7 linked regions of the Homo sapiens genome follow. The protein of the gene in region 3 purifies or fractionates together with the protein of the main gene of each other region. This does not show direct contact. Each region holds a gene or a part of one and is shown on either strand. Other genes may lie near its edges. The genes, in order: ACSF2, GSTO1, CCS, GMPS, PPIL3, PCK2 and ANXA5.

What was found.
Region 1: the proteins of CCS (region 3) and ACSF2 fractionate together in Homo sapiens (co-fractionation; one large-scale study listed by BioGRID). This does not show direct contact.
Region 2: the proteins of CCS (region 3) and GSTO1 fractionate together in Homo sapiens (co-fractionation; one large-scale study listed by BioGRID). This does not show direct contact.
Region 4: the proteins of CCS (region 3) and GMPS fractionate together in Homo sapiens (co-fractionation; one large-scale study listed by BioGRID). This does not show direct contact.
Region 5: the proteins of CCS (region 3) and PPIL3 fractionate together in Homo sapiens (co-fractionation; one large-scale study listed by BioGRID). This does not show direct contact.
Region 6: the proteins of CCS (region 3) and PCK2 fractionate together in Homo sapiens (co-fractionation; one large-scale study listed by BioGRID). This does not show direct contact.
Region 7: the proteins of CCS (region 3) and ANXA5 fractionate together in Homo sapiens (co-fractionation; one large-scale study listed by BioGRID). This does not show direct contact.

Annotation. Positions count from the first base shown.
Region 1 is NC_000017.11:50,470,864-50,475,481, forward strand, and holds the end of ACSF2 (medium-chain acyl-CoA ligase ACSF2, mitochondrial isoform 2 precursor), read left to right. Parts: intron 1-164; coding exon 165-272; intron 273-1,505; coding exon of another isoform or gene 1,506-1,520; exon of another isoform or gene 1,521-1,535; intron 1,536-1,564; coding exon 1,565-1,716; intron 1,717-2,801; coding exon 2,802-2,943; intron 2,944-3,030; coding exon 3,031-3,141; intron 3,142-3,335; coding exon 3,336-3,404; intron 3,405-3,638; coding exon 3,639-3,689; 3' UTR 3,690-3,974; downstream 3,975-4,618. UniProt on the Homo sapiens protein: Acyl-CoA synthases catalyze the initial reaction in fatty acid metabolism, by forming a thioester with CoA. Has some preference toward medium-chain substrates. Plays a role in adipocyte differentiation.
Region 2 is NC_000010.11:104,257,554-104,261,551, reverse strand, and holds part of GSTO1 (glutathione S-transferase omega-1), read right to left. Parts: intron 1,977-3,998; coding exon 1,754-1,976; intron 1-1,753. UniProt on the Homo sapiens protein: Exhibits glutathione-dependent thiol transferase and dehydroascorbate reductase activities. Has S-(phenacyl)glutathione reductase activity. Also has glutathione S-transferase activity.
Region 3 is NC_000011.10:66,599,524-66,603,521, reverse strand, and holds part of CCS (copper chaperone for superoxide dismutase), read right to left. Parts: coding exon 3,886-3,998; intron 3,034-3,885; coding exon 2,973-3,033; intron 1-2,972. UniProt on the Homo sapiens protein: Delivers copper to copper zinc superoxide dismutase (SOD1).
Region 4 is NC_000003.12:155,939,716-155,943,713, reverse strand, and holds part of GMPS (GMP synthase [glutamine-hydrolyzing]), read right to left. Parts: 3' UTR 1-3,998. UniProt on the Homo sapiens protein: Catalyzes the conversion of xanthine monophosphate (XMP) to GMP in the presence of glutamine and ATP through an adenyl-XMP intermediate.
Region 5 is NC_000002.12:200,882,080-200,886,077, forward strand, and holds part of PPIL3 (peptidyl-prolyl cis-trans isomerase-like 3), read right to left. Parts: intron 3,694-3,998; coding exon 3,619-3,693; intron 3,289-3,618; coding exon of another isoform or gene 3,183-3,288; intron 357-3,182; coding exon 263-356; intron 1-262. UniProt on the Homo sapiens protein: PPIases accelerate the folding of proteins. It catalyzes the cis-trans isomerization of proline imidic peptide bonds in oligopeptides. May be involved in pre-mRNA splicing.
Region 6 is NC_000014.9:24,097,030-24,101,027, reverse strand, and holds part of PCK2 (phosphoenolpyruvate carboxykinase [GTP], mitochondrial isoform 1 precursor), read right to left. Parts: coding exon 3,891-3,998; intron 2,826-3,890; coding exon 2,641-2,825; intron 2,554-2,640; coding exon 2,350-2,553; intron 1,980-2,349; coding exon 1,792-1,979; intron 1,471-1,791; coding exon 1,308-1,470; intron 1,034-1,307; coding exon 815-1,033; coding exon of another isoform or gene 723-814; exon of another isoform or gene 275-722; intron 1-274. UniProt on the Homo sapiens protein: Mitochondrial phosphoenolpyruvate carboxykinase that catalyzes the conversion of oxaloacetate (OAA) to phosphoenolpyruvate (PEP), the rate-limiting step in the metabolic pathway that produces glucose from lactate and other precursors derived from the citric acid cycle.
Region 7 is NC_000004.12:121,683,319-121,687,316, forward strand, and holds part of ANXA5 (annexin A5), read right to left. Parts: intron 3,055-3,998; coding exon 2,970-3,054; intron 1,454-2,969; coding exon 1,359-1,453; intron 160-1,358; coding exon 46-159; intron 1-45. UniProt on the Homo sapiens protein: This protein is an anticoagulant protein that acts as an indirect inhibitor of the thromboplastin-specific complex, which is involved in the blood coagulation cascade.

The sequences.
Region 1 (4,618 bases), on a different chromosome or scaffold from region 3:
CCTCCTGACCCCAGGCCCCTACCAATGATGTCTCTGTTTCCACCATTCGGCTGCCCTCCACTTTCCCTTTTCTTTTATGAATTCCTTCCCATTTCCTCAGATAGCTCACCTGATCCCTCTGCACGTGCTGAGCCCTCTTCAAACACCCTTTCTGGACCCTCTAGGTTGCTTATGGAACCACAGAGAACAGTCCCGTGACATTCGCGCACTTCCCTGAGGACACTGTGGAGCAGAAGGCAGAAAGCGTGGGCAGAATTATGCCTCACACGGAGGTGAGCCCCTGACCAAGACTCCAAAGTCCCACCTCCCGTCACCCAGCTGGGGTGCACCCAGCTGGGACATCGGTTGCTTTCAGTGAGAGAGTCAAATGGCTCACTCAGGATGCCTAGAGCCCCCCAGCAGCAGGGGTGTGCTAGGCCTGGCCCGGAGTGTTCTCTGTGGGCTAAGCATGAAAGGGGAAGAGCTGGAACAGTGGCTGTGAGCGGCTGCCAGCTGAACTTCTCCGCGGCCTCCCTTCCTGTCTGAGGTGTGTTTTTGCCAAGCCCACTGTCTGTTTCAGGGCAGCCAGGGTAGCCTCAAAGAGGAGCCAGAGCACAGAGAGTTTTCCTACACAGCTTCTTTTCCTCCAGTGGTGCTCGCCTCTCGCTTTAGCAGAGTTCTTCTTCTTGCTTGGCGTAAACACTTCATTTCCCAAGCAGCCTATCCCTTTGGGGCGGTCCCTTTGCCCCTCAAAGGTTGCCCCAGAGTGCACCTGAATCTCAAATGCCCAGCCATGCCTCCTTTCCTGCTCCAACACTGGGGCTGTGCCAGCTGGCTCCTGATTTCCCCTGCACCCTTCTGCTCCCGCCCCTGGGGGATCGCTGCCCCCGTGCACAAGCAGCTGCTTCCCCTGGGGCTGACCGCTGTCCTGGCGTGAATCTGCCCTGCCCTCCCGCCAGAGCAACCATGTACCCAGGGATTGAGTAGGGATGTGAGCCTCCTCCCGTGTGTGCTACAGCTGCACTGCCACTGTCACTAAGATGCCCACCTGGAAGGGAAACAGGGGCAGGCATCACTCACCCCATTTCACGGACACAGACACTGAGGCACACAGAGGCTCAGCTTTCCTTGGCACGGTGGCCGTGGCTCTTTTCTCTACCAGGCTTTCAGACTCTGTCTCTCCTGTTCACATGGTGTTGCCATGCCACCCTGTTTGGCTTATTTGCTGCTTAATGGGAAGTAAGAGGAGACTCCCTTCTCCTCTGCACGGTTTATAATTCTTCAGCTGGCTCTGCAGTCCACAAACCTCTTTCTTTGCAGCAGCTGCCTGCCCACTCTGTTTCCTCAGCCCTCCCAGCCTGGGACTCAGCTCTTCTTTCATGCCCAGCTCAGGTCTCTCACTGGCTTTGGGTCGACTCTAGCCTTTGTCTCCCTTCTCTGGATGGGGATAAGCAGAGCCAGGGGGCCTCATTCCAGGCAGTTGGGTTGGGGGGTTGGGGGCAGGCAAAGCTCTCTCCATTTCCAAGGACCACCTATCCTGAAGCAAGAGGATAGGAAGCCCCAACCTGAGGCCATCCTGTCCCAGGCCCGGATCATGAACATGGAGGCAGGGACGCTGGCAAAGCTGAACACGCCCGGGGAGCTGTGCATCCGAGGGTACTGCGTCATGCTGGGCTACTGGGGTGAGCCTCAGAAGACAGAGGAAGCAGTGGATCAGGACAAGTGGTATTGGACAGGGTGAGAAGGCAGGGCGGGGTGGAGGCTCTGGCCGCTGAGGGGAGGCTGGAGGTCTTGAGGCTGAGCCGGGAACATTAACCTGGCACCGTGAGGATGTGGGTATCAAGATGACCCCTCACATGCTGGAGTCTTAATTTCCAAAATGTATACGGTGGGGATGATCATACATAGCACAGAAGAAAGCAACTGGGTCATCACCCTACACCAGCAGCTGCAAAATCTGAGTCCAGATTCAGTCACTCATTTGTTAGCTCAGCAAATTCTTACTAGAATTCCTTATGTGCTAGCACCGTTCTCGCCGCTAGAGGTCCAGAGGAAAGTAAGATGAGAAGGATCCTGCTTTTTGGAGGAAGACAGATGATGCCCAACATCGATAAATAACACCAAGAAAATAGGCCAGGCGCGGTGACTCACACCTGTAATCTCAGCAGTTTGGGAGGCCGAGGCGGGTGGATCACCTGAAGTCAGAAGTTTGAGACCAGCCTGGCCAACACAGTGAAACCCCACCTCTACTAAAAATACAAAAATTAGCCGGACGTGGTGGCGGCACGTGCCTGTAGTCCCAGCTACTCGGAGGCTGAGGCAGGAGAATCGCTGTAACCCAGGAGATGGAGGTTGCAGTGAACCGAGATCGCGCCACTGCACTCAAGACTGGGCGACAGAGCAGGACTCCATCTCAAAAACAAACAAGCAAATGAACAAACAAAAAACACTAAGAAAATGAAATAGGGTTATAGGAGAGAAAGTGGCTGTGGTGGGGAGGGGAGCTTCCCTTAGATTGAGTGGACAGAGAAGATGTCTGGAGACATTTGAGCTGAGACCTGGAAAGAAGCCAGTCGTGAAAAGCTATGTATAGATGTGTTGAGAGAGACAGAATATGTTATAGGTATTGTTTTGTTTTTGTCTACCTCCCCTCCCCTTACTGGACTATTAATTCCAGAGACTGTGTCTTGTTCCTGCTATGTCTCCCAGAGTCTAGAGCAGTGGAAGACACATAGTAGCTGGTCAATAAATGTTTCACGACTGAGCAAGCAAGTGAGTGAACAAGGCAGAGATGACAGGTTGCCCCTGGGCTTTCCTTACAGAGATGTCGCCACAATGAATGAGCAGGGCTTCTGCAAGATCGTGGGCCGCTCTAAGGATATGATCATCCGGGGTGGTGAGAACATCTACCCCGCAGAGCTCGAGGACTTCTTTCACACACACCCGAAGGTGCAGGAAGTGCAGGTGAGGCACTTGGCTCAGGTGAGCCCCCAGAAACAAGAAACACACATGAACACGGTGATGTCTGATATTTTTCTTTGGCCCTGGAAGGTGGTGGGAGTGAAGGACGATCGGATGGGGGAAGAGATTTGTGCCTGCATTCGGCTGAAGGACGGGGAGGAGACCACGGTGGAGGAGATAAAAGCTTTCTGCAAAGGGAAGGTGGGAGCCTCCGCTCAACCTAGCTGATGCTGCTCTGTTCTTTGCTCACCCACTCCTCTGCCAACCAGCCCAGGGTGGGGATTGCTCTGCCCTTGACGAAGCTGACTCCTGGCCAGGCCAGCCCCTGGTCCCCTACCCATACCCCTGTGAGCTTGCGCAGCCTCACGCCTTACCTCCCTCCCTCTGGTCTGCAGATCTCTCACTTCAAGATTCCGAAGTACATCGTGTTTGTCACAAACTACCCCCTCACCATTTCAGGAAAGGTGTGTAAGGTGGAGGAGGCTGGGGAGGGCAGCCTGGGCTCTGGGGCCCCATAGGGCCCCACCTCTGTTTCCTTCAGCAATGGGTGTGGAGAGACTGGCAGTAGGGTGACCGGGTCACCTAATCCTGGTTTGCCTGGGGACTTTCCCTGTTTTGGCACTAAGAGCCTGAGAAACCCCTTATTCTTGGGTGAACCAAGACAGCTGGTAACCCTAACTCCATTTTCTTTCCTCTAGATCCAGAAATTCAAACTTCGAGAGCAGATGGAACGACATCTAAATCTGTGAATAAAGCAGCAGGCCTGTCCTGGCCGGTTGGCTTGACTCTCTCCTGTCAGAATGCAACCTGGCTTTATGCACCTAGATGTCCCCAGCACCCAGTTCTGAGCCAGGCACATCAAATGTCAAGGAATTGACTGAACGAACTAAGAGCTCCTGGATGGGTCCGGGAACTCGCCTGGGCACAAGGTGCCAAAAGGCAGGCAGCCTGCCCAGGCCCTCCCTCCTGTCCATCCCCCACATTCCCCTGTCTGTCCTTGTGATTTGGCATAAAGAGCTTCTGTTTTCTTTGGCTTCTTGCTGGTGGGCTCTCTTGGCAGCTACTACAGGATGGAGAAGGGAAGACACTGAGGGGAACTAGCACTTTCAGACGTCCTATTCCTTGTCATTGAGAGTGCAGAGCACCTTGATGTGGATTATCTACTTAATTTAACCCTCACCCTTGGTATCCCTTTGAGATACCAACCCATTTTTGTTGTTGTTCTTGTTTTTTGAGACAGAGTCTTGCCCTGTCACCCAGGCTGGAGTGTAGTCATGCGATCTCAGCTCACTGCAACCTCTGCCTCCCTAATTCAAGTGATTCTCCTTCCTCACCCTCCCAAGTAACTGGGATTGCAGATACCCACCACCACACCCAACTAACTTTTGTATTTTTAGTAGAGGCGAGGTTTTACCATGTTGGCCAGGCTGGTCCTCAAACTCCTGACCTCAAGCAATCCGCCTGCCTCAGCCTACCAAAGTGCTGGGATTACAGGCATGAACCACTGCGCCTGGCCCCAATTTTTTATTTTTAAGCTACTCTAATTTAATTCTTTTTCACATTGTTGCCAGATTAGTCTAGCAAGAAGTATTCTTTTTATATATGTATAACAGCTTGATTGAGATGTAATTCACATACTCTCCAGTTCACTCCCACCTCCCCCATTTTCTAGAGACAG
Region 2 (3,998 bases), on a different chromosome or scaffold from region 3:
TTCTAGCCTCTAATTAACATTATTTGAGCCCCAACGCTTAGTTGTCTTTACTGTCCTAACCTTTACTGTCTTAGTTCTGTGTCTCATTTCCAAGTTCCCAGGAGAGAAGATAACTGGCCCAGGTGTGTGGGGTGGGGTACATTTCTGTTCTGATGGGCTGTGGCCAGGAGAGCAGGGTCATATGTACATAAAGCCACCTCTCCTTTAAAACCCAAGCAGGGAAGTAAAGGTGGGCATCTTCAGCATTACTTTTAAATCTCATTTTCTTTCTAGATAGTACAATGAATCTCTTGTGACTACTTTTTAAAGTAGTAGCTTTATGCATGAAAGTAAAGCTTCATGTCTAAAAGCTTTACTTTTAAAGCTCATTTTCTCTGACGTGTCCTACAAGTCCTTTCACGATCCAGTTCCTGTTTACCTCTCCAAAGTTACCCCTTTTATCTCTTCTCCTGACACTTTATATTCCAGCCATACTAAAAAAAGTTTTCCAGAACTGGCACCAGACCAAAGAGATTTTTCTTTAAGAACCACTTAGGCTTATTTTTTTTGGTTGGTATTGATGACTTCGTGTCTTGAAGCTGCATGCCTTTAACTTGTTACTACTTTGTAAAACTCTCCCACATCGTTCTTGAAAATGTCATGTTCCCTTTACATTATCTTTCACAGCAGCCGCCTCTACTATTCTTTCACCCTCATCTTACTAAGCAGATGACTCACTCTTCCTGTCCCATTGGCTTCCCTTTATAATGTCTCCTAAAACAGAATGTTTTCCCTATAACTCTCTCTTAGGGCATTTCTTTAACCATCTTTTTCTCTAAAGATAATCCTTTATATACTGACCGTACTACCAAGGTGACAATGTTATAGGCATATAACCAGACATGCTATTCTTGGTGTCTAAACACACATCTTTTAGTCATTTCTTTGTTAATACTAATTGTTTGAACTAATCCACAGTGTTGATGCTAAGTAAGGTACAAACAGTTCTTCTACAGGATTGCTATTTATTCAGTCATCTGAGTTATTGCCAACACAAAGTAGATGCTCACTGCTTGATGCTATGGCTATAAGGACAAGAATTAAGTAGTTCCCATGTGTCAGACTCTGTTCTGGGTGTTTTATATTAACTGATTTTTATCTTATGAGGTGGGAACAATTACTATATCCATTTTACCAATGATGAACGGAGAGGCAAAGTAATAAGTAACTTGCTCAGAGTCACAAGAAAGTAGCAGAGCCAGTCATAAAACTAGGCAGTGAACTAACAGTGATCAAAACACAGCCCTCACCCTCAAGGAGCTCACAGCCCCAGTGCAGTACACAGGCAAGAAGGCAGGCAAAAGTTCACACGGATGGGAACTCAGAAGCTAGAGCACTAACCAGCCTGCCAAGCTCCTGAAAAGGCAGCAGTGTCGGAGCAGACATGTGAAAAATGACGTGGAGATAACCAGGCACAGTGAGAAGTGGGAAGAATCTGACAGCAAGAATTGAAAGAGAAAGGGGCGAATTTGGGAATTCTGAGAAAAGTTTAGTATGGCTGGCATATATAAAGTGTCAGGAGACGAGTGAAAAGGGATAATTTTGGAGGTAAACAGGAACTGGATCGTGAAAGGACTTGCAGGACACTCAGAGCTGACAAGCATATTCCTGTTTTGTTTTTCTCTCCCAAATCACTGAACCATAAATGGCAGCACTGATTTCGCTTTAAAAAACAGGTTTTTCAAATAGGAGCTGAAATTTCTTATGCACAAACCTTAGAAAACAACTCTAAGATCATCTTCTGGCAAGCTTTCTCATAGGGGTCATCCGGCAACAGCTTCTTCCCTGGGTATGCTTCATCCAGGTACTCACAGGTGATGGCAGACTCGTAGATCAGCTGACCCTGACTGTTTTCCAGAACTGGCACCAGACCAAAGGGATTTTTCTTAAAGAACCACTCAGGCTTATTTTTCAGGTTGATATTGATGACTTCATGCCTGAAAGACACATAGGAGACTATGAAGAGAAGGAAACAACTTTTGTGCTTTTGGATAAATTCTCACTGGCTTTGCCATCCACTTAGCTGATCAGACCCCAAATTTAGGAGTCTGCCTAGATTCCTTCCATTCTAGTTTTTGATTTTATGAATCTGACTACTTTTGATACACCTTTTAAGAACAATCATGCAGTATTTGTCTTTCTGTGTCTGGCTTATTTTACTTAGCATAATGTCCGCAATGTCCATCCATGTTGTCACATATTGCAGAATTTCCTTCCTTTTTAGGTGGAATAGCATTAACACATTTTCTTTATCCATTCATCTGCTGATGGACATTGACATTATGCTGTTGTGAACAGTGCTGCAGTCTACGTGAGAGTGCTAATATCTCTTTGAGAACTTGATTTCATTTAATTTGGATATATACCCAGTAGTGAGATTGCTGAATCACATGGTAGTTCTAGTTTTAATTTTTTGAAGAACATCTATACTGTTTTCCATAGCAGCTGTACCATTTTACATTCCCGCCAACAGTGTGCAAAGGTTCTGATTTCTACACATCCTTGCTAACACTTGTCTTTTTTCATTATAGTCATCTTGACAAGTGTGAGGTTATTATGTGATTTTGATTTGCATTTTCCTGATGATTAGTGATAAGAACTTTTTCATATATGTGTTGCCCATTTTTATATCCTCTTTGAAGAAATGTCTATTTTTTTAATTTTTAATTTTTTTTGACACTCTGTCTCCCAGACTGGAGTACAGTGGCTTGATCGCAGCTCACTGCAGCCTCGACCTCCTGGGCTAAAGCGATCCTCCTACCTCCCGAGTAGTTGGGACCACAGGCGTGCACCATCACACCCAGCTAATTTCTTTGTAGAGACAGGATTCTGCCATGTTGCCAAGGCTGGTCTTGAACTCCTGGGCTCAAGTGAACTGTCTGCCTCGGGGTTATAGGCGTGAGCTACCATGCCCAGCCTGAGAAGTGTCTATGTAAGATCTTAGCCCATGTTAAAATCAGGTTTTTTTGTTGTTGAGTTGTAGAGATTCCTTATGTATTTTGGAGATTAACCCCTTACCAGGTATGTGGTTTGCAAGTACTTTCTCCTATTCCATAGGTTGCCTTTTTGCTCTGTTAATCGTTTCCTTTGCTGTGTGGAAGCTTGTTTGCTGTAGTCTCATGTGTTTATTTTTGGTCTTGTTGCCTGGTCTTTGGTGTCATGTCCAGGAAATCATTGCCAAGGCCAGTGTCATGAAGCTTTTCCCCTATGTTTTCTTTTACACGTTGGCGGTTTTTATATTCCTTGAATTTGCCAAATGTGTTTCCACCTTAGAGTCTTTGCACTTGATGGTCCTCTGCCTCCTCTGCCTGCCTTTTCCCAGGTCTTCCCAGGTCAAACACACATCCCCAGGCCCTCCCTGACCATAGCTCTGAAGTTGCTGAGCAGCTTCTATTACATGATTATCATGTTTTACTTTCTTCATTGAACTGATAATATGTATCTGAAATTACTTTGCTCACTTATTTACAAGTTTGTTATCTTCCTAGAATGTAAGCTTCACGAAAGGTGGGATCTTGTGTATCTGTTCATAGTAATAAACAAACATGTAAATGAGCAAAATGCTATATAGATATAAATGCTCTGAAGAAAATAAAAAGTTTCAAATAAGGACTCAGTAAATATTTTTGTTTTGAAATATTTCATATAAATGAATGAATAAATCTGTGGAAATGCTTCAAAATTGTCAATAAGATACTCCATTTATGGCTAAGAGGTATCTTAGTTATAAATCATATGAGGCAACTAATTGAATTGTGTCCACTATCCACTATATGAGAACCAACATAAAATTCAATTTATTTTGCTAATTTGAGTAAAAAGTTTCTTGGTTTTTATGAAGATATTAAGGAATCCTTAAAATCCACCCACAAGGCCAGGCTTGGTAGCTTACATCTGTAATCCCAGAACCTTGGGAGACTGCAGTGGGCGGATTGCTTAAACCCAGGAGTTCAAGACCA
Region 3 (3,998 bases):
TCAAGCTGATCTCAAACTCCTGACCTCAAGTGACCCATCCGCCTCAGCCTCCCAAAGTGCTGGGATTACAGGCATGAGCCATTGCACCTGGCCTAATTTTTGTATTTTTAGTAGAGACAGGGTTTCACCATATTGGCCAGCCTGGTCTCGAACTCCTGAACTCAAGTGATCCGTCTGCCTCGGCCTCCCAAAGTGCTAGGGTTGCAGGCGTGAGCCACTGTGCCCGGCTGGAGGAGCGGCCTCAAGGCAGGGGGCAGCCTGGACAGTGTGGCTGGAGGCATGACCCAGCAGGAGTTCAGGGAAAGGCAGCCTTTCCAGGCTGTTTCCTCAGCACACAGGCAGGGGCAATAGGCAGGGGGAGTGGGGTATTGAATGTCCACATCAAGAAGCTAGGCCCAGCTTGTACTCTCAGGCACTGGGAGCCAAGACAAGTTTCAGGCAGGGGCATGGCCTGGTTACTCCAGGCTTCAGAACAATCCTTCTAGTGCAGTCTATGAAAAGTAAAGACTGGAGCAGGGTGAGGAGAGAACAGAAGGGAGCTTAGAGATCAGTTAGGAGATGTGCAAGGGACAACCAGGCTTGAATGCAAATTCCCACATGGAATTCTTTTCCACCTGGGAAAAGCAGATGCTAAAACCCAACAGCAACTTGCCAGTCACCGTGGCCTTGGCTGGTCAGCTCCTGCTCAGTTCTTCCTTGTCTAAGTTAAGGGATTGGGTGAGGTACAGCTGCTGATGCCAGCCCCTTCTGATTCCCTGCCCCACCTGGGGCCCAGGAAGAAAACACAGGTCACAAGACAGGCTCCTGCCCTTCAGAAACACTCCCTGCCATTCCATGCCTTGAGGGCTTTGCCCGGGCAGTTTCTTTTGCTGGGCTTGCCAATCCCACTCTTACCCTCTTCAATGCCTACTTCCTGCCCATCATCTTTCAAGGCTGCATGAGGCGAATGGCCTCTATGATGTGCCTCCCTTGAGTGTGGGCTGGACCTAGTGTCACTTCTAAGATTAGGTTACAAAAAGAATGTGGCTTGAGTCTTGGACGCCCTCTCTCAATCTCAATCTCTCTCTCTCTCGCTCATTCACTCTGAGAGAAGCCAACTGCCGTGTTGTTAGCTGCCCTAGGGAGAGACCCATGTGGCAAAGAACTGATGTCTCTGGCCAACAGCCAAGGAGGACCTGGGGCCTGCCAACAGCAACATGAGCAAACCTGGAAGCAGATTCTCCCCACGTGGGGCCCTGAGATGACTGCAGCCCCGAGAGAGACCCTGAGCTGCAGGCACCCAGCTAAGTCACACACAAATTCCTGCCCCAGAGACAGTATATGTTTGTTGTTTTAAACTCCTAACTTTGGAGTCATTTGATTTGCAGCAGCAGATTACTAATCACTGAGCATAAGCATGGCACTGTGCAATGGACTCTATAAGAAATGCCTCTCCAATTTCCCAGAACAGGGAGTAAAAACTTTTGATCATTAGAAATGTGACAGGGTGGTTGGGCACAGTGGCTCATGCCTGTAATCCCAGCACTTTGGGAGGCCAAGGCAGGCGGATCACTTGAGGTTGGGACTTCAAGACCAGCCTGGCCAACATGGCAAAACCTCGTTTCTACTAAAAATAAAAAAAAGAAAAAGAAAAAAAAAAAATGTGGCAGAGGCCAGGCATGCTGGCTCATGCTCATAATCCTAACACTGGGAGGCCGAGGAGGGAGGTCTGCTCAAGCCCAGCAGTTTGAGACCAGCCTGAGGAACATAGTGACACCCTATTTCTACCACCAAAAAAACAAAAAAAAAAAATTAGCTGGGCATAATGGTACATGCTTGTGGTCCCAGCTATCAGGTGAGGTGGGAGGATTGCTTGAGCCCATGAGTTCAAGGCTGTAGTGAGCCATGATCACAGCACTGCACTCCAGCATGGGCAACAGAGTGAGATCCTATCTCGGAAAGGAGAGGGGAGGGGAGGGGAGGGGAGAAAGGAAAAGGAAAAGAAACAGAAGAAAAGAAAAGCATGATAGGTAACAGAGCTGTGAAAAGTCCAAAAAATCAGTAACATGCATTAAGCAACACATACCATGGTTTCAATTGTTTTGTGGCACAAGGTTGCAAACCCATCAAGATAGAAAATAGCCCAGTCAGAGCCGGGCACAGTGGCTCACGCCTGTAATCCCAGCACTTTGGGAGGCTGAGGTGGGTGGATCACTTGAGGTCAGGAGTTCAAGACTGCCTGGCCAACCTGGTGAAACCCCATCTCTACTAAAAATACAAAAATTACCCGGGTGTGGTGGTGTGCACCTGTAGTCCCAGCTATTAGGGAGGCTGAGGCAGGAGAATCGTTTGAACTTGGGAGGCGGAGGTTGCAATGAGCTGGGACTGCGCCATTGCACTCTAGCCTGGGCAATAAGAACAAAACTCCATCTCAGAAAATAAAATAAAAAAACCAAATGATTGAGTAACTAAAAATACAACTAGTACTCAGATAAGGCAAAAATCATTAAGGCAACACACAATTCCCTGAAGATTGGGAAATGATTCTCTGCTGAAAAATGAAACTCCAGGACCGGGGTGTTAGGGAACACCAGGGACAGCCTTTTCAGTTTAGGTAAAACCCTCAACTTCCATATTTCACTTCCTCCCACTGCCCCTGCCCCTCAGGCAGATGAACTATTCACTGTGGGCTCCAGGACCTCTTGCAGGCTCCTGCAAGGATGATCTCACTGCCTGGAAACCATGGAATTCAGTAATCTCCCCCAGAGACTGTGTGCTCCTTGGGTCAGGCACTGGGGCTGTAATCTATTGTATCCCCTGGGCCTTGATCACAGAAAGTGTCAACAAATGTTTCCAAACTCAGCAAAATAAAATGAGAGGAAAAGACTCCACCAAAAAGGAATCACACTGTTATGATCCCAAGAGCTGCCTGCCCTGCCTCTGAGACTTTGGGTCCTCTCTCAGCCCAAGCCCAAACCCAGACAGACACTTACCCGGTCAGAGTCCTGGGGGCCCCCATGAGATGCTCCATCAGGGTTAAAGTGATTCCCACAGCTAAGAAAGAAAGGAAACAGGTGGGCAGGAAAGCAGCTCACAGGCCAGGTGCTCTACCCTCTCATCTATTTATATTTGCTTCATTCATTCATTCATTCATTCATTCAACAAACAGGCCTACTCTGTGCTGGGCTTTGGGTAGAGGGCACCGAGAAGAATCAGACATGGGTCCTGTCCTGAATAAGCTTCTGGCTCAGGGGACTCACAGATGAGTAAACAACTAGTTATATCACAGCATGACAAACACCATGGCATGGGGACCCTTCCTTTGCTGTGTCCAGAAGTCCCCTTCCATCTCAGAGGCAGTAAGGTGGTTATAAGCAGGACCTTCAAGATCAGATTTTATTTTTTTTCTTGAGACAGAGTTTTGCCCTGTCACCCCTGAGCTGGAGTGCCGTGGTGCAATCTCAGCTCACCACAACCTCCACCTCCTGAGTTCAAGTGATTCTCCTGCCTCAGGAGATTACGGGCCTCCCTAGTAGCTGGGATTATGGGCACATGCCACTGCACCTGGCTAATTTTTTTTTGTATTGTTAGTAGAGATGGGGTTTCACCATGTTGGCCAGGCTGGTCTTGAACTCCTGACCTCAGGTGATCCGCCCACCTCAGCCTCCCAAAGTGCTAGATTACAGGTGTGAGCTACTGTGCCCAGCCAAGGTCAGATCTTGACTCAAACCCCAACTCTACCTTTTACCTGCTGTGGACCTTTGGCAAGTCATTTAACCTCTGTGAGCCTCAGTTTCCTCATCTGGAGGTTGTGCCTGTGTGTATGTGCCTCACAGAGTATTGGTGAGGGCCCAGTGTGAAAATGTGTAGCTGAGAATGCTACTGGGGAGACTTCAGACAACTCACCTGTTGCAGTTGTTTGTAAGGTCCCCGTACTGATGGACGTGGAGTCCATGCAGCCCAGGCTCCAGGCCGTCAATAGTTCCCTCGATGAGGCAGCGCTCAGGGGTCAGCTGTAG
Region 4 (3,998 bases), on a different chromosome or scaffold from region 3:
TGAAGTATATTGAAGACAAAAGGGATTAAAGTCATTTCACATTTAGCAAAGCTATTTTATGGCAACATTGTTACAACACAAAATAGACATTGCAGTTTACAATTAACAATTACACAGTGATTTCATAACAATACTACTTACTCCAATTAACAAAATATTTCTTTATAAAAAATATGTTCAAAAGGAGGTTTACATTCACTTCTTCGTTTAATATCAAGGTTGTTAACAATGGTCTTAGGAGATGCAAAGACGAAAAACTACTTACCTTAAAAATCTGTATTCTTGAAGATATATACTCCACTTGAATAAGATACTGCTCAAGGTTTAGGCTTCCTGGAGAACTCAGAGGATTTTGTAGTTGTACTTAATATACTCAATAGCCAAATTTCCTAAACTTTCATAATTTTGCTAACCAAGGGCCCTTAACAAAGTTAAAAGACACCACAGGGTTCAAAAGTGAACAAATATGTTGTTTTTGTTTTAAGACGGAGTCTCATTCTTGTCACCTAGGCTGGAGTGCAGTGGCGCAATCTCTGCTCACTGCAACCTCCATCTCCCGGGTTTAAGTGATTCTCACACCTCAGCCTTCCGAGTAGCTGGGATTACAGGCGCGCGCCACCAAGCCCAGCTAATTTTTACATTTTTAGTAGAAATGGGGTTTCACCATGTTGGCCACGCTGGTCTCAAACTCCTGACCTCAAGAGATCCGCCCGCCTCGGCCTCCCAAAGTGCTGGGATTACAGGCATGCGCCACTGTGCCTGGTCACAAATATGTTAATGAGCCAATTAAGATGGTGCTGCTCAAATGATTCTAATTCAGGAAACTTAGGTTGCAGCTAGGTAATCTCTAGTTCTCTAAAGAATAATACCCAAATGACAGGATTTATGTGTTGATGCAATAATAGCTCAGTCTGTTTCATGACCTAGCTAGAGTCAGAATTGGAGCGGTGGCTATAGCACAGGGGTGGCTTTCTCCTCTCTGAAGGAAAAGTAAAGAAGTAAGAAGAAAGAGGTTGAAAGAACAGCCTACACAGTTGTTGCCCAGATCTCAAAATTAGCAACAAGTATGTCAGCTGTCCTAATTATTACCAAACAGGTCCTGGGAGTGTCTGACACACAACATAATATAGGTGCAATCAGTTCCAGAATCTGGTTCCTGGATCTGAACTAATTTAGCTATAAGACCTTCAGCAAGACCATCTCTATGGCCTGCATCTCTCTCCTATAGGTTTGACAAAGATTCACCTATGAGTTTGATGAAGACAGGCTAGGTATGGCCCTCAATAAGAATTTATTCTGACTGGGAGATTTAAAACTGTAAATGCTTGCCGGGCGTGGTGGCTCACGCCTGTAATCCCAGCACTCTGAGAGGCCGAGGCGGGCGGATCATGAGGTCGGGAGATCGAGACCATCCTGTATAACACAGTGAAACCCTGTCTCTACTAAAAAGTACAAAAAAATTAGCCGGGCGTAGTGGCGGGCGCCTGTAGTCCCAGCTACTCGGGAGACTGAGGCAGGAGAATGGCGTGAACCCACGAAGCGGAGCTTGCAGTGAGCCGAGATTGTGCCACTGCACTTGGGGACAGAGCGAGACTCTGTCTTAAAAAAAAAACAAAACAAAACTGTAAATGCTTGAGTTCTACCTCCTCCAGATTCTAATTTTATTTAATTGGACATCTGGTTATTGTATTTTTTAACTCCTCAGGTTATGTAATAATACGCATCCAGTGTTGAGGAACACTGACAAAAAGGTTAGAGTTCAGTGAGACACTGAGGCCTCTTCAGTACATAAAAATAGGGTTGGAAGTTAGCATCTTGACACTCTTTGGGGGATTCTATATCTCTTCACTTGCCATTAAGTGAAACGTTCAGAAATTTAAGAGTCAACAATGCCACCATTACTGCTGTCAAAGTCCTTCAGTGATTAAAAAGATACCAGAAAGATACCCTGATCCCTTGATCATCTGGTGGTGTTAAACTACTTCAGTAAGAACAAAAGATGTGCTTTCCAAGGGTGGAGACATCCAACTTGTATTCAGTTCCCCATTACATTCTGGATTTGGGTCAATGAAAGAAGCATCCATTGGGGTGATAGCTAAGGCGTGTCCTCGCCACATATCAATGAGATTTCTGGAGGGGAGTAGTGTGGGAAAGTGGTTATAACATTGCGCAAGCAGATGTCAGAGAATTTCTGAAAGACAGGGCTATCTCTAGAAACTCACTGTAAGTAAGGAGACAATTAACACTTTTGAAGCCCATTTATCCCTGATGGTCAATTACACACTAAGAACTTCCTTTTTTTTTTTTTTTTGAGACTGAGTCTCGCTCTTTCACCAGGCCGGAGTGCAGTGGCACTATCTCAGCTCACTGCAAGCTCCGCCTCCTGGGTTCAGGCCATTCTCCTGCCTCAGCCTCCCGAGTAGCTGGGACTACAGGCACCCGCCACCGCGCCCAGCTAATTTGTTGTATTTTTAGTAGAGATGGGGTTTCACCGTGTTAGCCAAGATGGTCTCGATCTCCTGATCTCGTGATCCACCCACCTCGGCCTCCCAAAGTGCTGGGATTACAGGCATGAGCCACCGCGCCCGGCCAAGAACTTCCTTTTAAGATTTGCCCTGAAGGGCCCTAGAGCATTTCCTCTTCCATGCAGAGAATCAGAAAGCTTGGATTCTAGCTCTAGCTCCCAACAATTAGCTGTATGTAATTGATGATGGGTGACTTCATTAGTGTCAAAGCCAAAGCATATTCTCTGTCAGCTTTTCAAAAAAACACGCAGTAAAGAGAGATTCCTACCAGGAAAACTTTGATGGGTGTTTTTCAAGTGTCATCTCACAGCAGAAGATGCCCCAAGTGGTCAAACCTTGCCAACAGCTTCAAAAAAAGGTAACTAGGATTTAACTTTACGGTGCATTTTGATGTTTCCCTTTGTGTCATATCTGATGATAAAAGAACCTTAAAAAAAAAAAAAAAAAACACTATCCAGCTTCTCCATTCTGTCTCCTGCTTTACTTTCTCTTGTTTACAAAATACAAATTTATAGCTGGATTTGATGCTGAAAATTTAATACAGTTACCTCATGTCACAGATAAAGAACAGAAATGACTTGACCAAGTTCACATTGTTGTTTAACGGCAGGAAAAGCACTAAAGATGGATAGTCCTGCCTTCCTAATTTGAATGCTCTTATTCTCTACAGGTTAGGGTCAAGTTATTCAGTAAAACAGGCTATCAGGAGGTTAAGCCCAAACAGTGAGGAAACAAATTTTATGATGCTTGTTTGACTAAATGCATGCAGTTTACCTCAAGATTAAGGGATTTAAAAAAGGTTAGAAAACAGTGTAACCCTATCTCCTGGATATATCTACAGACTTGTATTTAGGAATTATGCCAGGCTGTTATTTCTAACAGAGCTGATGATCATAGATGTGGCCTTTAAGGCAGGACTGGGTATTTGGTTCTTAAAAATGATTCTGTGCCTGCCAATCTTAGGAATAAATAATGCTTTCAATGATCTACATTCTCTGTCTACCTAAAAAGTACAAAGAAAAAGAATATATTTAATCAAAGAGAGATGTGTCCCAGGTAGATGGTAAGCAACGGGAATAAAGTCATGATATGCCCAGAATAACCAATGATGAATGTTATTAGCCAGGTAGCCACCATTCTAGTCTTAGTAAAATAAGCATCCCATAAATGTTTATATAATTTTAGGTGTCAGAATACACATCAGGACAATCTGGACTAAGGAAACCTGAAATTTAATTCTGAAATTAATTAAGTAACCATGCCTAAGGTGAGCTTGTTTTCTTAACTGTAAAATGGAAGTGCAACCTTTAACTTTCCTCAGTGGCTCAGATGAAATACTGTGAAGGTACAGAGTAATGCTATATGGCACAAAGCAAAAAGTGCTGTGCAAAAGAAGACAGTGTGCTAAATATTAGGAAATTTCTGAGTTCCAGAAAATTTGGATTTTTAAGAAACTATGTCATGTCAAGATGT
Region 5 (3,998 bases), on a different chromosome or scaffold from region 3:
GGGCAAGGGGAGGGAGAGCATTAGGACGAATAGCTAATGCATGCTGGGCTTAAAACCTAGAGGACAGGCTGATAGGTGCAGCAAACCACCATGGCACACATATACCTATGTAACAAACCTGCATGTTCTGTACTTGTAGAACAGAACTTATTAAACAAAACAAAACAAAACAAAAACTCCACGTATTTAATTCCTCTTCTTTTACCCACTTCTTCATACTATACATTCAGTTCCTTAGATCTTGGTTAATGGAATAACTTACCTGTTGGATCTCCTGTTTGAACCATGAAACCCTTGATATTCCTATGAAATATACAGCCATTGTAGTAATTACTGGCACAAAGAGCCAAGAAATTCTGAAGGGAGTAAAAATGATTGAGAAATGATGCAGCAGAAACCCAGTTAAGACAAAAAACCAATCATATTTACTGAAAACGTGATAGCAGCATATTTAAACTATGACTGTTGTCATTACTTTGGATGTCATTTCCCTGCCTACAACACTTCAATAGCTTCCTTCTCCTCTTGAAATAAAATACAAAATCTTTCGCCGGGCATGGTGGCTAACGCCGGTAATCCCAGCACTTTGGGAGGCCGAGGTGGGTGGATCACGAGGTCAGAAGATCGAGACCATCCTGGCTATGGTGAAACCCCATCTCTACTAAAAATACAAAAAATTAGCTGGGTGTGGTGGCAGGCGCCTCCAACTACTCTGGAGGCTGAGGGAGGAGAATGGCGTGAACTTGGGAGGCGGAGGTTGCAGTGAGCCGAGATCGCACCACTGCACTCCAGCCCGGGCGACAGAGACTCCGTCTCAAAAAAAAAAAAAAACAACCAAAAACAAAAAGAAAATCTTCAGCAGGGCCTAACAAGCCCTGCAGTACCTGGCTCATCTCCTCATCACATATACTAAGAACTGCTTTCTTGTTGCTTACTACCTAAACTCCATCAGCATTCTGACAATTAATCCAAAAGGGGCAGCTTTTCTTACCTGGGGTACTCTGTACCTGAGATTTCTATATCTGGAATGTTCTTTTTTTTTTTTTTTTTTTTTTGTAGAGACAGTGTCTCCCTATGTTGCCCAGGCTGGTCTTGAACTCCTGAGCTCAAATGATTCTCCTGCCTCAGCCACCCGAAGTGCTGGAATTACAGGTGTGAGCCACCGTGCCTGGTCTTGGAATTTTTTAAAATTTTATTTCACAACCTTTTCTGAATCTGAATACCTGGAATATTCTTTCTATACCTCTTTCCATGGAGATGCCCTCATACCTTTGCATTTAATTTAAGTATTAGTTTATTGGCTACACCTGCCCTCACCTTCTTCCTTTCCCATTATTCTCTATCTCAACACTTAATTTTTTTCAAGGCATTATCATCTTTTAGAATTACTTAATTTTAGGCCAGGCACAGCAGCTCACACCTGTAATCTCAGCACTTTGGGAGGCAGGAAGATCACTTGAGTCCAGGAGTTCAAGACCAGCCTGGGCAACATAGTAAGACCTCATCTCTATCTTTAAAAAAAAAATAAATAAATGAAAATAATTTCTTAAAAATATAATTACTTAATTTTCCTGCCCTGCTTATTTTTACAACTAAAATATTGGCTCCATGAGGGTAAGGAATGTCTGTTGCTCATCACTGTATCTCCAGACTCTGGGGCAAGATAGCCTTTCACGAATAATGGGTTTCTTGTTTCGTTTTGAGACAGGGTCTTGCTCTGTCACCTAGGCTGGAGTGCAGCAGTGTGATCAGAGCTCACTACAGTCTTGACCTCCTAGGCTCAAGCAATTCTCCCACCTTGGCCTCCCTTGTAGCTGGGACAACAGGGTCACACCACAACATCTGGCTAATTTTTGTATTGTTTTGTAGAGATGGGGGTCTCACTATATTGCCTAGGTAAGCCTAGAACTTCTGAGCTCACCTTAGCCTCCCAAAGTGCTGGAATTATAGATGTGAGCCACCATGCCCAGCCATAAATAATTGCTGAATAAATGAATATATACAGGTGACTCTTCTTCCTTCCATCCTTGTCATTTAAACAGGTGACACAGGCCGGGTGCAGTGGCTTTGGGCAGCACTTTGGGCAGCCAAGACGGGTGGATCACCTGAGGTCAGGAGTTTGAGACCAGCCTGATCAACATGGTGAAACCCCATCTCTACTAAAAATACAAAATTAGCTGGGCATGGTGGCTGGCGCCTATAGTCCCAGCTACTTGGGAGGCTGAGGCAGGAGAATCCCTTGGACCTGGGTGGCGGAGGTTGCAGTGACCCAAGATTGGGCCACTGCACTCCAGCCTGGGCAACAAGAGCAAAACTCTGTCTCAAAATAAATAAATAAATAAATAAAAATAAACAGGCGAAATAATGTATAGAACAGGCCAGGCATGGTGGCTCACGCCTATAATTCCAATACTTCAGGAAGCTGAGATGGGACGATGGCTGGAGACCAGGAGTTCGAGACCAAGTTGGGCAACATAGTGAGATCTCGTCTCCATAAAAATTTAAAAAAAATTAGCCTGGCATGGTGGCACACGCCTGTAGTCCTATCTACTTGGGAGGCCAAGGTGGGAGGATTGCTTGAGCCCAGGAGGTTGAGGCTGCAATGAGCCGTGATTGCACCACTGCACTCCAGTCTGAGCGACAGAGCAAGACCCTGTCTCAAAAAAAAAAAAAGTATACAACAATTCTTTAATATAATATCCTGCCGGGCATGGAGGCTCATGCCTATAATCCCAACACTTTGGGAGGCTGAGGCAGGCGGGTTACCTGAGGTCAGAAGTTTGAGACCAGCCTGGTCAACATGGTGAAACCCCGTCTCTACTAAAAAAATATAAAAATTAGCTGGGCATGGTGGTGGGTGCCTGTAATCCCAGGTACTTGGGAGGCTGAGGCAGGAGAATCGTTTGAACCCCAGAGGCGAAGGTTGCAGTGAGCCAAGATCATGCCACTGCACTCCAGCCTGGGTGACAGAGCAAGACTCCGTCTTGAGAAAAAAAAAAAAAAAAAAAAGGCCAGGTGCAGTGGCTCATGCTTGTAATCCCAGCACTTTGGGAGGCTGAGGTGCATGGATCACCTGAGGTTAGAAGTTTGAGACCAGCCTGACCAACATGGTGAAACCCTGTCTCTACTAAAAATACAAAAATTAGCCAGGCATGGTGGCGCACGCCTGTAATCCCACTTACTCGGGAGGCTGAGGCAGAAGACTTGCTTGAACCCAGGAGGCGGAGGTTGCAGTGAGCCGAGATCGCGCCATTGTACTCCAGCCTGGGGGACACAGCGAGACTCCATCTCAAAAAAAAATAATAATAAATAAATAAAAAAAAAGAAAGAAAAAAGTAATATAATGTCCTAATGATTACGTTTCCTGAAGAAAATTAGTTCAAAAGAAAAAGATACTGGCTACTCTATCGTTACCGAAAAATTATCTACGTTCTCTTTGATCCACCTTTGACATTGGACAAATAAGTGGAAATCAGGCCAGAAGTTAGGATGGCTAGTTTTCCCTAACAATGGTTTTACAGAAAGTTTTGTTGTTGTTATTTAGGTTAGATTATTCAATTCCAAAGTGCTTATCTTGTTGTATTAACTGATGTTGAATATGTAAATAATAGTACTTACCTCACATGTTTTGGGTGTCCTCTCACAGAAGACTTCAATTTTAATATCACCTACATCTGTATGCAGTGTCACAGACTAAAAAGGAGAGAAAATGTGAGAACAAATGAAATTTATTTAGGTGACTTTATGCATTGTTTATTTCCCTGTGTGGATATTCAAGATGATAATCTGAATAAAAACAGACAGAAATACTGCTTCAGAGATGACCCATCCACAAAGCAGCTCTTAGAGGTTAAGTTGTACTTTTTTCTCAAAATTGATCCCAACAGTAGAGAAAAAACTCCAGAATATAAATGTTAGGGTTAAGTAGTATCCATGACAAAAATTTGGAAGTAAATATTTTGATGGAAAGAATTATTTTAACTTTGAATTTTTTATCA
Region 6 (3,998 bases), on a different chromosome or scaffold from region 3:
AGTGACTACAAGGCCAGCCTCCCCTCCCATGCTCTTCTTTGCCCCTGCCTCTTGGTGTCTGGACTGCCTGACTGCAGAAGGCCATGGAAAGAATACTGAAGGTCCAGAGTGCAGGGCTGAGGGAGAGGTGGGACTCCCAGGCGCCCAGGGTAATGACAGGATTCAGAAACTAGCTTCTGGGAAAGACTCAAGCACTGACCTGATTTTGTTTGTAGGAAGGATTGGGGTGAATGCTTTGGAGGGACAGGGGAAGGGTGACGGTAACAATACTGACCTTTAGACAGTGGTTATTATACAGGGGACAGTGGGAGCCAAGTGGCAGGAGGAGAGTTGGAGCAGAGGAGGCAGCTTTCCTCTTTTCCTAATGGGCCAAACTTTATGGATAGTGCTTGGAGCCCAATACCTTCTGTAAGAATGTTCAAAAGTCCTTCCTTTTCCTTTCATTAAAAAAAAATCCAGCCTGTATTTATTATTGAGAATTTACTGTGTATTTGTCAGTGTGATAAACCCTTTTTATGCACTATTTAATCCTCCAACAATCTCATGAGATAGGTACTATCACAACTACCCTCATTCAACTGATGTGGAAACTAAAGCTTAGGGAAGTTGAGCAACTTAGCCAGATCACAAAACCAGTGACTGGTGGAGTTGGGACATGAACTGAGATTTTGCCTGGGACTGGAAACTGCAAACGTTCATGACTTCTGTGCCTCCTGGCAGTCCTAGAAGATGGTTGGAGGTTGTGGAGAAAGCTTTTCCACCATTAAGGTGCTGAGGCCTGGAGGCTGTGCCACACCTTCCCCACCGCACATACCAGGTTTCCAGGGTTTGCCCAGCCAGGAGGTCACAGTAACACCAGGTGGAAGAGGCTGGTCAATGCCCTCCCAGTACACGCCACCATCACTGGTCTCAGCCACATTGGTAAAAATAGTGTTACTCTGGATTGTAGCCATGGCGTTGGGATTGGTGGTGGCAGAGGTACCAGGGGCAACCCCAAAGAAGCCGTTCTCAGGGTTGATGGCCCGGAGTCGACCTGTTAGGAGAAGTGAAAGAAAGGAAGGACCAAACAAGGAAAACTTGAGATGTAAGACCAAAGAAGGTCCTGCTCCACCCACCCCTGTCCTGAGATGGACCCAAGATCTGATGAGGAAAGGCTGTCTCTCGGGTGGCTGGGCTGCCAGAGGAATGGAGCAGGGTTGGGTGTTCAGGAAACTTTCTCACTGACAAAGTCATTGTGAACACTAGAGAGGAGACCCCGAGGCTCTGACAAGAGCCAGAACCAAGAGTATGATCTGAGAGTCCCTCACCTTCACTGTCAAACCTCATCCAAGCAATATCATCCCCCACACACTCCACTTTCCAGCCTGGCAGTGCAGGCCGCATCATAGCCAGGTTGGTCTTGCCACAGGCACTAGGGAAGGCGGCTGCCACATAGCGCTTCTTCCCTGCAGGGCTGGTGATGCCCAGGATCTGTGCATTGGGGAGAGAGGGAATAAGAAAGAGGTCACCAAAAGTCAGGGCATGGTCTGCATGGGGAAGGGCAGCTAGGGTCTAATAGGGAGGACCAATGTTTATTAACTATATAAGTGATTGCCCTGCCATCAGGCCTGGGTTAGTGGCAGGGGAAACCTCAACATTCAGCAGCCTGAGGCCAAAGCTTTGGGCCTTCAAGTAGAGTCCCCGCCCACCAGCCTGGCACCTGGCAGGAGGGAGGTGAGGCTGAGGCAGACTGGCCAGGCCCCACCCCTGCCCTGTCCCCGGCAGCTGCCCTGCTTCTCACCAGGCCCTCACCAGCATGTGCTCTGCCAGCCAGCCCTCATCCCGGGCCAGCCGAGAGGCGATGCGTAGGGCAAAGCACTTCTTGCCCAGCAGGGAGTTGCCACCATAGCCGCTGCCGAAGGAGATGATCTCCCGCTGGTCGGGCACGTGGCCAATCAGGGTTTTCTCTGGGTTGCACGGCCACTGGCTCACTGGCTCCCCTGGGGACAATGGGGTCATGGGGCTGCTGGCAGCAGCATCAGGAACTGGGGTGTCGGGGCCAGAGGGATCAGGGATTGGCAGGAGAGACACTTGGGAGCAGTAGCAGCACCAAGAGGTGGCTGAAGCCCCCCACCTCATAATAACCATCAGCTTCCATGCCCCTATTCTTGGACACGGATTTTTCTCAACCTAGTGCAAAGTGCTCTGCAAACACAGCCTTATCCCTCTGCTGGGACTGCTGCTCTGGATCTTGGGAATTAGGTTGCCAGAGAGGACAGGTTCTTAGGGTCTGTGGAGAGGTAGGATTTGGGATTTCCTCTGAGTACAAGAAGGCCTCTGTGTTCCCCTTGGGGCAGAGCAGGTGCTTACCTTGTCCTGTCAGGGGCTGGCCCACGGAGTGCAGACACTTGACAAAGTCACCATCTCCCAGGGCCTGAAGCACAGGTGTCCCCAGTCGGGTCATAATACGCATGCTTGCCACCACATAGGCTGAGTCAGTGAGCTGCACCCCGATGCGGGACAGCGGGGAGCCCACAGGACCCATGCTGAATGGAAGCACATACATGGTGCGGCCTGTGGAGGAAGGCATCCCCTGGATGAAGGGTTCCAAACCTGTTCACATCTTCCGTGCCCTTGCCACTGTGCCCCTGCCCTGGTTACCCTGCATGCAGCCTGGAAACCTCTCATCCACAGCTCGCTGGAAATCAGCTGGGGACATCCAGTTGCCCAGCTGCCCACGGGCCCCACCAGGCGGGAGTGGTACCGTGTCCCGCTGAGAAGGAGTTACAATCACCGTCTTGCTCTCTACTCGTGCCACATCCTTGGGGTCTGTGCGGGCCAGCCAGCTGGGGGAGAGGGGATTGTCAGGAAGATGGTGGCCAGCAGGTTTCCCTTGTCCCTAGACCCACTTTTTCAAGTCCAACTTTGACTCCAGGTCTTCTGTTGGCCTTATGTTTCCCCACCCAATCACATCTCAGTCCCTTCCTCCAGGCTTTGTCCCATCTAAGGGGTGTTCCCCAAGGTCCCAGCCCTCTGGGGGTCTCTGCCCCTGGCAAAAGCTCCCTGAACTGGTGAGGAAAAAAAAAAAAAGCAAAGGATCTTATTTATATCAGCTTCTTCATTTAACATTAAAATAAAATACAAACTACAAACTAGGCTGGGCGCAGTGGCTCATGCCTGTAATCCCAGCACTTTGGGAGGCTGAGGTGGGTGGATCACTTGAGGTTAGGAGTTTGAGACCAACCTGGCCAACATGGTGAAACCCTGTCTCTACTAAAAATACAAAAATCAGCTGGGTGTGGTGGCGCATGCTTGTAATCCCAGCTACTCCGGAGGCTGAGGCAGGAGAATTGCTTGAGACAATTCCCCGGAGGCAGAGGTTGTTGTGAGCTGAAATCATGCCACTGCACTCCAGCCTGGGTGATACAGTGAGACTCCATCTCAAAAAAAAAAAAAAATCCCAGTTTCTTTCTTTTTTTTTTTTGAGACAGAGTTTCGCTCTTATTGCCCAGGCTGGAGTGCAATGACGCGATCTTGGCTCACTGCAACCTCCGCCTCTTGGGTTTAAGTGATTCTCCTGCCTCACCCTCCCAAGTAGCTGGGATTACAGGCATGCGCTGCCATGCTGGGCTAATTTTTGTATTTTTTTTTTTTTTTTTCAGTAGAGACGGGGTTTCTCCATGTTGGTCAGGCTGGTCCCAAACTCCCGACACCTGGTGATCCACCCGCCTTGGCCTCTCAAAGTGCTGGGATTATAGGCGTAAGCAAATCCCAGTTTCTGGGTCTGTTTACCCCAAAGCTCTCATTCTTGTTCATTCCATTGGGATGTTCTAGTTAAGTTGATTTTGCCTTGGTGAACCCAAAGTGGCCTCAGTGCACCTATCCTGCAGGTTGTGGAGCCCAAGGCTTACCAGTTATTGTACTTGGGGAGCTTTCGGATGAGGCCCTGCTGCTCCAGCAGGGTCAGTGTGGCAGTATTCTCAGCCTCAGTTCCATCACAGATGTGGATGCCCTCTGGT
Region 7 (3,998 bases), on a different chromosome or scaffold from region 3:
TAATACTATCTATGCAAGAATGTTCCTTTCACTCATCCTTTTTACCTTCAAGGCATGTTTCAGTTCATAAGCATCATAAAGCCGAGAGGGTTTCATCAGAGCCACAATTAATTTTTCAAATTTTCCAGTTAGTTCTGATTTCAGGTCATCCAGAAGATCCTAACCCACAGAAAATACAAATTTGTTAACCAGCAGAAATTGTAATAAGATTCTTCTTAAATATGAATGACAGTCCTTTGCTCTAATGAATTCTTTATGTTGCTGTCTCCAAGTAGAAGGCCCATGAGCTAAACAAAACCCTATAACCTTGAATAACATACTTTTAACCTGTGACCAAAATCTTAAACTAAAGCAAACCCACTTATACGTCAAGATATTTGTTTCTAAAAGATGTTTTTCTTAACTTGAAAAAAAAGAATACCTTTAAAAGTAGTCTAAAACTATTTTATAAAAATACTATTCTGAGAAACATATCTTCTTTGTAATTTCAAAAAATAATCATATAATGAAATTTACAAAGGACAACATTTAGTCTCTCATACCCAAACGTAATAATTTTTTCTTTTCTCTCAATATGTAATAACATTCAAACACATAATAGATTATAGTCATTGTTATGACTCCTGACCACTGGGAGATATCTGTTCCTATGGGGAAATTGTGTATGTAATTATGAAAAAATTATGTAATTGTGAAAAAAAAAACACAGTATTTCCTACCTATAAGTTTCAGCATACCACACAACTAAAAATGGTGTTTAGAATACTTTCTTTTTTGCTTTGCACTTGTTTCCTTAGTTAAGTGACATACGTTTTCAGAATAACAAGACTACATTTAAGTTTTCCATGCATGCACTAATTCATTTAAATTTAAATAATTCAAATAATTCATTTAAATAATTCAAATAAATTTTTTTGAATTATTAATCAAATAAAAGCATTTAAATCAACTAATTAAAAACCCATTAGTTAAAATCATGACAAAAGGAACCAAGACTGTGACTGTGTTAAAACAAAACATATTTTAATACAGGCTTACACCTAGAAAATGGATAGTAAGACATCCATGTGAATGCTGAGTGGGAAACACAGAGGAAAAGAAGAGAGACAGTTCTCACTACAGGATCTTTTGGCACCTCTACAGCATTAGGCAAGGAAAAACAATTATGTGAGGATAAGCTGGGTGAGCACTGTATCCTAAGAGCTGATAATTTAGAGGAGAGTGGAAAAGAAACAGAAGTAGGGAAGTCGGAATCACAAAATAAATGATGCTTACAAAAGAATATCAGTATATTCCAAACTAGTCTTATAACTGATAGCTGTTCTCCCATTCTCTCTTGGGATGAAGTGTGGTCTTACCCTGCCAAACAGAGTCTTAAAAGCTGCAGAGATTTCCTGGCGCTGAGCATTACTTCGGGATGTCAACAGAGTCAGGATGCTCTCCTCATCTGTGCCTGCAATTTATGGTTAACAATTACATTTTGGCTCCTACATGCATACTCTCCCAACGATCTTGGCAACTCGCTTCCCAGTCACCTTATTTCCTTGCCTCTCCCTATGCGAATATAAAATATATTTTATGGCCGGCGCAGTGGCTCACATCTGTAATCCTAGCTCTTTGGGAGGCCAAGATGGGAGGATTGCTTGAGGCCAGGAGTTCAAGACCTGCCTGGTCAACATAGTGAGACCCCCATCTCTTAGAAAAAAAAAAAATATGTATATATATATATATATACACACACACATATATATATACACACACACACACACAGACGCAAATACACACATATATATAAATGTTTTATTAAACAGTTTATTAAAAATTTACAATATATAAAATGTTACGTTTCCAATATATTCTACCCCCCATTCCCAACCTATTGTGAAGTAGATGGAAAAATACTTCTGCCTTTTAAAAAACTTAGGGCACCTAGTTTTTTAAAAACACACAAATAAGTATGAGCTAAGGCAAAATGTGACAAGTGCCTCAGGAGAGATCTAGGTGTTAAATGGGGCTCAAAGAAGGGTCTCCTAGCTGATAGGAGGTGGAAGGGAATCTTGGAGAATGATTCATGGAGAAGGTGACACCCACAAGTATTGAAGGATGGAAGGATTGTGAAAGGCAGTGACGAAAGGAAGGACAGCGTTTAGAATGAGAGAAAAGCTCAGCAGTGGGGAAATACAGGGCTTTCATAAACAGCAGATAAGCCAGGATGGTTGGGTCTGAGAACACATTAAACAGTAATGGGAGATGAGTCTGAAAAGGTGGGCTGGATACAATGGAAGGACTTACAGGGCCAGAAAGCACATGAACAGTAGTACAAAAGGAGCCTGAGCACAGGAGATCAGTGACACATGGAAATCCTTGAGATGAGAGGTTTTTAAATGACTAGAAAAGAGGCTGGGGAAAGAGAAGAGTCTAGCAGAATGAGAATGGGATATCTGATTGGGAACAGAGCTGCACAGCTGCCCACCTGCAGGGATGGCTGCCTTATCGACTCGGGCCTCTACCACACAGGTGAGGGTGACAAGCTCAAAAGCACAGAGGCTGAATTTAACTGCCTGTTCAGTTCTAGAGACTGAATATTAGGGATGGTTTATAGCAAGCTTGTCCAACCCATGGCCTGCAAGCCACATGTGGCCCAGGACAGCTCTGAATGCAGCCTAACACAAACTCATAAACTTTCTGAAAACATTATGAAATTTTTTTGCTTTTTTTTTTTTTTTAGCTCATCAGCTATCATTATTGTTAGTGTATTTTATGTGTGGCCCAAGATAATTCTTCCAATGTGGCCCAGAGAAGCCAAAAGACTGGACACTCTGGTTTATAGTATTATTTTGTTATCTTAACATATCTCTTCTCCTACAGATTTCAGATCAAAATATTCTAAAATTATTCTTACTGTAATTAATGACTTGTTTGGAAAAACAAATATCACATTTGCTTTAGAAAGAGGAAGCTAAATTTACCCAAGCCTTTCATAGCCTTCCGAAGAGTTTCTGCATCAGCCCGCTCATCAAATCCAGGGAAGTCAGTCACAGTGCCTCTGAGAACCTAATTCACGAAACACAGTGGTATTATTCATATCATGACTAATATGACAAAGTAAATAACACAAACAGGAAGCCGCTTGCTATATATCATATTCAGTCATTAAATAAATTTACCATTTGATAAGATTTGTGACCCCTTTTGAACTGGGAAGGGAACCATTTACAATGGGAATTGGCATGGCCGATTCAGCACAGAAGCTATCCTGATCACCTGTAATACCATCAGTGGGAAGGCTGGCTCCCTCTTCTCTGTGACGAAACCCCACCAACACCTCCTGGTTCACAGAGGGCACATCTTTGCAGGTTCCCTTCCCATTAAGTCTCACACCATTTTGATCTACAAGCATACTGAGCCCGCACTAAATCTTAATACCCTATCCTGAGTACTCAATTTTAAGCAGTGCTCTTGTTACGTGCCTTTTGATCTAAGTCCTGTTTCTGTATACATACTTAGGGACTTTACGATAACCCAGCAAAGCCTGAAATGATCGTTCACGTGCCAGAGGAATACAAATCTTTGAATTTAGAACTTTATAAAGGTGTATTGGAAGACATTCTTCATAAAGCTTCCTGTTACACATTACTTTATCATATATATACACTGCTTTTAATAACCAAAATATCTTCGTATTTCAAAAAAAATTAGTGATATCGGCTGGGCGCAGTGGCTCACGCCTGTAATCCCAACACTTTGGGAGGCTGAGGCAGGCGGATCACAAGGTCAGGAGATCCGAGACCATCCTGGCTAACACGTTGAAACCCCATCTCTACTAAAAAAATTAACCGGGTGTGGTGGCAGGCGCCTGTAGTCCCAGCTGCTTGGGAGGCTGAGGCAGGAGAATGGTGTGAACCTGGGAGGCGGAGCTTGCAGTGAGCCAAGATCGCGCCACTGCACTCCAGCCAAGGTGACAGAGCGAGACTCTGTCTCACAAAAAAAAAAAAAAA